2 linked regions of the Homo sapiens genome follow. Each later gene encodes a partner of the first gene's protein in a complex. Each region holds a gene or a part of one and is shown in the gene's direction. Other genes may lie near its edges.

The links. Proteins that work in one complex are often made in the same cells at the same time.
Region 2: the proteins of PTAR1 (region 1) and RABGGTB are in contact, whole or in part, in a crystal structure (PDB 6O60), measured with the Homo sapiens proteins. Residues at the interface, in NP_001093136.1 of Homo sapiens: Val61, Lys62, Leu65, Pro66, His69, Leu73, Arg76, Leu97, Asn98, Asp100, Phe101, Thr102, Thr103, Asn106, Lys109, Glu110, Leu113, Ile141, Arg144, Trp145, Pro192, Ser193, Tyr195, Ser199, Ile202, Trp203, Gln206, Val231, Ser232, His234; in NP_004573.2 of Homo sapiens: Lys6 (codon at 3,286), Asp36 (codon at 3,376), Tyr37 (codon at 3,379), Cys40, Met41, Glu43, Tyr44, Ile89, Gly90, His91, Asp92, Asp136, Trp138, Glu140, Phe177, Asp178, Gly182, Cys183, Arg184, Pro185, Gly186, Ser187, Glu188, Ser189, His190, Gln193, Trp217, Glu221, Arg222, Pro225.

The regions. Positions count from the first base shown.
Region 1 is NC_000009.12:69,711,200-69,715,154, reverse strand, and holds part of PTAR1 (protein prenyltransferase alpha subunit repeat-containing protein 1), read left to right. Parts: 3' UTR 1-3,955.
Region 2 is NC_000001.11:75,784,224-75,787,823, forward strand, and holds the start of RABGGTB (geranylgeranyl transferase type-2 subunit beta), read left to right. Parts: upstream 1-2,032; 5' UTR 2,033-2,048; coding exon 2,049-2,051; intron 2,052-2,848; exon of another isoform or gene 2,849-2,926; intron 2,927-3,273; coding exon 3,274-3,381; intron 3,382-3,600. UniProt on the Homo sapiens protein: Catalyzes the transfer of a geranylgeranyl moiety from geranylgeranyl diphosphate to both cysteines of Rab proteins with the C-terminal sequence -XXCC, -XCXC and -CCXX, such as RAB1A, RAB3A, RAB5A and RAB7A.

The DNA.
Region 1 (3,955 bases):
AGCTCTGTAATTGTCAATTAACTGTATTATAATATATATTAAAAATTTGTAGAGCTAAAGAACCCACTTGCATTAAGAACACCACTTTCTGTTCATTTGTGATACTAGAGGACAGATCCTGCATACAGAGCCGAAACTGCTTTTAATCATCTGAAGAAATTCTTTGATTTCAGTGACTTACTGATCTGTACCTGTGCACATATCATTTTATGCTTCTCCTTTTTTCCCCGCAACTTGAACTGTGACTCTTTCAGATATTTCTTAAATCTGTATGAGTCATTTTTTAAGCTTAGGGATTTGATATGTATTAATGTCCCCTTTGTCTTCTGTAGATTTTAGCATTTTATTACCTCTTAAGAAACTCTGGGCCCAGACTTTCAGTCATATTTCTTATTCCTATGGTACAGTTCTCACTTAAAGGCTTAATTATTAGTAGGGTTAAATATATACAGGTTATCTCTAAAAGTACTTAAATTTTTAAATAAGGGCTTATGTGATACAAGATACGGAAACAAAAGTTTTTGGATTTTTATGCAGTAGTTTGCAGGAAAGCAAATACATAGTAGATCGTATGCCACTTAGGTATGTTCAGGTCATGCCAGTTTATTCTTGTTGGGCCACACACACATGTATGTGTGTGTAAAAGGAATTTTTAGTATTGAAGCAAACAAATTGTCAGTTTAATAATTTTCTCTTACATAGCACAAGATGGCAGATACCACCTACTGTACAACAATCTAATAATCCCTACCTTAGTTCCCCTGAGTTATAGAAGATGCTAAAGATTTAGTTGTAAAGGGAAGTAACATGATTTTTTTTTTCTAAAAAGCTGTTTTAAGCTAACTATTATTTTGCTACTGGAAAATTATATTTTAAAACTTACAGATATTTAAAGTATGCTAGAAAATTTGAACCTGATAACAACTGAACCTTTTGTCTTGAATAAATTTCTCAAATAGAACTGTGCAAACCCTAGCACTTTATGTGTTGCTGCCTCCCCATACCTAGGTATGCTCTGTAATAAGCTCCCATTTAATGGAGAGATGTGTGGAGGCACTGAGAAGTTAATGAAGAAAAATCAACCCTAAGAATTCCTTATTGTCACATAGTGTCTTTTAAAAAATAACTGTAGAGACTGTGTTAATTCGAGTGCCTTTCTTACTTTTTTGGGAGCAAGATTATATTTAATGTTTAAGAAAACAGGATGGAAGTTTTATCAAACAGTTGATTGTGGCCCATTGTTTTATTTATTCCCATCGCTAGGCATGGCCCCGTAGGGTATTTTATCCTTCAGTGAGAGACTGATATAAGCAGGCAGGATGCTTTGATTATTCCATTAGTTATCATTTTAAGCACCCTACCAAGATTTAGTTCTTTCTTTCTGGCAACTAACGTTTTGGGGGTTGGAGGCATCCCATTTAGAGGATGGTGTGTGCACAAATAGATTAGCCTGAAACCTGCGTCCAAAGGGAAACAGTGGCACTCTGCCCTAAAATAAAGGCCAGAACGTTGTCCTAAATGAATCCTTTGCCTTACTTTAGGACCTTCCTTCCCTCTCAAATTCAGGCATAATGTAATATAGTTGAAAGGGGGAAAACAGTACTTGCTTTCTCTCAGGTATTGGAGGAAAAGAAGTAAATGCGTAGATGAAATTTTAAATGTATCATTTTATCTGTTTGTATATGGAGAAGGGAGGGATAGGAATTCCATATTTCAAGATAGCAAATATAATTTCATAGAAATATATAGCTAAAGATTCCAAAGTGCTTTTACAGAGAACTGTTGAATAATATATTCCTAAAGGGCAGCAATATGCCATGTTCATGGTGAAGACAGAAAACCAATGAATCAGTTGTGGATCTCAGGTGGGAGAGGAAACCTCAGGCTCCCAACTTTGACTTCTCTACTCTCACCAGGCCATGTTAACACTGTAAAACCAAACTCTTTGCTAAGAACAATACAGGGCAGTAGTTTAGTCTGCTGATGAAACCTTGTGCTTCCAAGAATATTAGCTATATATAATTTGTGCTTTCTGGATGATTCTATTGTCCAGAAAGCTAACCCTGACGTTACTTTTATTAGTCTGTTGTTATTCCTCAGGGTGTAGAAGATTTAGTAAATTCAGGACAAATTTTATATTCAGTGGCAAAAAGAAAAGGCAAAAATATGCTAAATATATTATTAGCTCTTAAATTTTAGTATAGATCGTATTTTTTATAAACTATTACCAGTACAGTAGCTAGTAGATATTCTGTGACTGCCTCATTGTTTATCTTGCTGCTTTGGTCCCTATGGCTCTAGTATGAACATTCTCGTGTCTTCTGTGGAAATGATTTCTGTGTTATAGTTCCATCTTTGGTAGAGGTGGGGATGATTGTATTTTGTTTTAGTTGACATCATTCTCAACTTTTAGAAATACTGTTGAGGAAAATGATTACCGTTGGTTTTCAAATTGACAACTATTTTGCTTCCAAAGACTTCAGTTTCCCTTTGTTTTATGTGTAGACCTCATATATGTTCAACACATTGCATACTGCCTTGCACATTGTAGGAATTCAACAAGTCAAGAGTTGATAAAAGCTAGAAAGATAAAACTAGCTTAGCTATCATATCATCATTGTCCATATTCTTAGCTTTGGGAAAAATATACCATTTTGCATAAAATACATAATCAGTTTCAAATGCATAAGGCAAAGATATACAGTTGCACAACATTGCAAGTGAAATTTACAAAGGATTTTTATTTTTGTGTATGCTAAAAGTGCTCCTACTTAAAGCAGTTTTCTTTATTAGACCAACACCTTCCAGCAAAGTTAGAAACCAAACACAAGTGCTCATTTGCCCAAATTAACCAGATAGTTATGTAAACTGTTCATATTAAGTCTTTAGTGGTTTACAAACAATAACATTCTGGCTTTTCTTCCATACCTTTTAGGAATCAGCCTTAATTTTAAGTATAGCAGTCACTTTCCTCAAGGTACTATGCAGCATACTTTAGATTGCTTATTTATCATTATAAGGTGATAGGTAATAAATTTGAGGTTTACTTGTCATATAATTTCATATGGCAGATATTGATTCAAGGAGCATTCTATTAGAAAAAGTTGATAAATTATCCTCCCTTACAAATATCATCTTGCATTTGGAGCAGGTATTTTTTTCTTATTAGTTAAAGACTGGGTACAGTTATAGTAGATGCTCAATAAATGCTTAGTCAGTGATTGATCTAACATCAAACTAACAGCTTTCAGAAAGGAGACTGTTGACATCTTTTCACCAAGGAGTATATTTGTAGAGTAATATATGTGTGGAATTTTGAAATTATATCATTTGACATGATTTATGAGGCTTATTTAAGCTGGAGTTAGTAACGTAATAGAAGTATTATTTATACAGAACATAGTTGAAAGATAGGAGATGTGAAAGATTAAGTAGTATTTTCTTGTGCAAGGCATATTAATAAATGTAATTAAATGTCTTAATAAGCAGCTGGCTGAACTCTAGAGAGAACTGCTGTAGTCTTCTGCAATCAGTCTCTGTATTGGTATATCCAGTACTATCGGGTTTAGGTTCTTTTTATTTTTCCTTAAATCTTACTTGTTTCTAGCGTCTTAAGAGTGGTAATGGTAAAATGTGAAGTTACAATAAACTTCTGCTTGTTTTCTCAGAACATCTTTGGCATGAGGAAGAACTTTTTGTGAATGATACAGTAGTCTCAGCATCTGTTAATTTGTGGTTTTCAAAGCATTTTTGACAGAGTTTACCTAATGTAAAAAGATTAAACAGTTTTATAAAACACAAATAAACATTCCTACCTGAACTGTGAGGAACAGAGTGTATAGTACAAATGTAATTAGGCATTGCCTCCTGGCGAGGTTCTTGATGCATGACTTCGATGCTGGCTGCTGACTGAGGTGACCACTGTCAGTATTGTACTTTGGCATATGTTGTTTTT
Region 2 (3,600 bases), on another chromosome or scaffold:
GAATGAGAATACCTGGACACAGGGCAGGGAACATCACACACAGGGGCCTGTCATGGTGTTGGGGGAGGGGGGAAGGATAGCATTAGGAGAAATACCTAATTTAAATGATGAGTTAATGGGTGCAGCAATCCAACCTGGCACATGTATATCCATGTAACAAACCTACACGTTGTACACATGTACCCTAGAACTTACAGTATAATTTTTTTAAAAAAAGTAACTTCCAATATTTTTACTATTAGCACTCTCCGAAGAAGTGTTTGTGGTGGCGGTGGTGGTGGTGGGGAGGGTGGCCTGTGTGTGTGGCGAGGAGAGGGGGCGGGTACAGGGCTGGACCTTGAGATAGATAAGGCAAACAGGAAGGAAATGTGAACATTTCATTAATATTCATTTAAAAAATATTCATTGAACACTTACTACGTGTAAGCAGGCACTCTACTAATTAACAGCCATTTCAGATTTTCAGAGTGCAAAGGGCCTCAAGAACAAATGATTTATTTTTTTGAGACATGGTCTCGTTCTGTCTCACACCCTGCAGTGCAGTGGCATTATCACCGCTCACTGTAGCCTCCACCCCCTGCCCCACAGCTCAAGTAATTCTCTCACCTCAGCTTCCCCAGTAGCTGAAACCACAGGCTTGGGCAACCACGTCTGGCTCATATTTTTATTATTTGTAGAGACGGGGGTCTTGCAACATTGCCCAGGCTGGTCTGGATCTCCTGGAACCGCCTTTGCAAAATTATAACTGAGGAAATTATGGCAGTGAAAGAAATCAGACCTAACGGATTCCATCTTGCTTCTAACTTTTGTTTTTGAGACTAGTCTCGCTCTGTCGCCCAGGGTGGAGTGCAGTGGCGTGATCTCTGCTCACTGCAAGCTCCGCCTCCCGGGTTTAAGCCATTCTCCTGCCTCAACCTCAGGAGTAGATGGGACTACAGGCGCCCACCCCCACGCCCGGCTAATTTTTTGTATTTGTAGTAGAGACGGGGTTTTAGCCAGGATGGTCTCGATCCCCTGACCTCGTGATCCGCCCGCCTTGGCCTCCCAAAGTGCTGGGATTACAGGCGTGAGCCACCGGCCGCTTCTAACTTTTAAGCTGTCCTTCTTCATTCCTGAGCCTAGGCTGAACCAATTTAGGGAGGAATTCAGTTTATGGTTTGACTCTGAAACAAAATTGATAATATCCCTTTCCCAAAAAGACCGCTTTTTTGCCTGGGGACCAGTCTGCCTTTGCAGAACCAACAGATTAGCTACAAGATTAGAAATTACAGTTTAGAGGTCATGCAGCCTCTGGCTCCAAGTTTCTGAACCTCCCCAAATTGCTCCTGGGGATAACATCACTATTGTAAAACCTAAGATAAGTTCTTGAGATATTTTGCAGACCCTGCTCTCCATGGATCAGTTGAAACCACCCAGATTGGTAATTTGGCTCAACCAGTTCTGCCATCCTACCCAGGAACAGAAAACAGCAAGAAAAACTCACGTCTACCCACTATGAGTCCATCTCCAACCTGACCCATCAGCACTCCCTACTTCCCAAGCCCCTAATCGCCGAATTATCTTTAAAAACTCTGAATACTGCTTGGGGAGACTCCATTGCAAGTCCCCTGTCTTGATAAATGGGCTATCGGTCAGCAGCAGGCAAAGTGAACCACAATATTGGGTGGTTACACTCCTAGGATCAAGCAATCCTGCTGTCCGGCTTCCCAAAGTGCTGGGATTACAGGCGTAAGCCACCGCGTCCAGCTAGAACAAATGATTTCTTAAAAGCAACTCAGATATTTAAATATTATTTAAAACTGTTTCTAGACAAATCGGAGTGACTATGGGACAAGCATATGGTCGCAGGACTTTGGACGCAGGCAGTGAGGACACCTATGAGCGATCAGTGGGGTCCTACGGCAGCCGTGGAACTGCTCTGCCTTGCAGGCGAAAGTGTGGTCAGCTATATCGGAGCGCGATGGGGGCCTGAGAGGCGCATCTGCGCAGGCGCCCGGCTCCTAAGTCTACCCAGGAACTGACCCTGCTCTCTCCTTTCCCTGTTAGACATGGTAAGTGTGAGTTTAGCGCTGCTGTCCGGATGGGTTGGTAGCAGACAGGGTGGAGTAGGGTTAAGCACACTGGTCACCTTAGGATTGGTTTCCTGGTGCTGGAGAATGGTTAGGACACAGGCCTTGGAAGGTTTTTTGAGTGTGAAATATTACTCAGCGTTTTCTGCAGACCTCGCGGGCAATGCCGCTTCTAATTTTATCCAGGCCTTCTTCTGTAGGGAGGGCCTGTTAAGAGTTGAGCAGCCCGATTTCTGAACCCCTCTAAAAAGCTGTGGCTGATTGGTGGCTTTTTTTTTTCTTGGAGAGGGGGTGTCAAAGATTTCTTTAAAATCGTTAGTGATGTGGTCTCGCTTTAAGATTTTTAATGGGATCAGAAGAAAATTCGGTACTTAATCACTTCCGGTAATCTTCATGACCTGTTATAGTGACTGCAGTGTACTCTCAATGAGGAAGATATAGATACGAAAAGAACTAGAGCCGCATCACATGGGGACTTCTGCAAATACAGAGACTCGGATTAAAGGTGGAGAAGATGGAGCTAAAGGAACTGCTTATTTAATACATTTGAACAACTTTTGGGGTACTTAGAAGGTGCTTTGAAACCTGCATTTGATTAAGCAAGAATTCGCTTGCAAGTTAAGGGTTAGATTTTTTTATTTTTTAAAAATATGCTTTCTGCCACATGTAAACCGTAAGTTGTCCTGAAATGATAAGCTTTGATATTCTATGGTGTTTATTTTTTACTTATCTTTTTGAATGAAAAGTGAACAACAAGAAATGCTGGTGGTAATTTTTTGGGTCAATGATGAGTTGGCATGTATTCTGAATCTAAAGTTGATTATTACTACTTTAGCTCTAGAATTACTCTGAGACCTGAAAATTACCTGAATCGTGACTAAGACGAAGCCTGAATGATTTAAGTTCTTTTTTGTTGGATACAATTTGTTGTTGTTGTTGTTGTTTTGGTTTTGTTTTTGAGTCGGTCTCCGGTCGCCCAGGATGGAGTGCAGTGACACAACCTCAGTTCACTGCAGCCTTAATTTCCCTGGCTCAAGCGATCTTCTACCTCAGCCTCCCTAGTTAGTTACAATTTTTAAATGGAACGTTTTCCTATTACAAGATGAAATCAAGTGAAAATTGAGATGTATGTTGAATCTATGCTGTGGGGCAGAAGAACGTTGTAGAGGTAAACATTGATGAGATTACCACTTTATTTTGAAAGGGCACTCCACAGAAGGATGTTATTATCAAGTCAGATGCACCGGACACTTTGTTATTGGAGAAACATGCAGATTATATCGCATCCTATGGCTCAAAGAAAGATGATTATGTATGTATAATTTTTTTATGTTGGAAAGTTTATTTTAAAGAAGTGTGACAGTCATAAGCAGTGAGACAGTATTTATGTCTTAAAATGGCATCCAACTCCATGCAGAGAACTGAGGATGTGCTGTGCCTTTGAACTTCAGTTAAGTGTGCTTTGGACGTCTGAGGCTGTGGGCTTATTAGAATCTCAGTTTTTACCTATACTGAGAGGGCTTGCCAGACA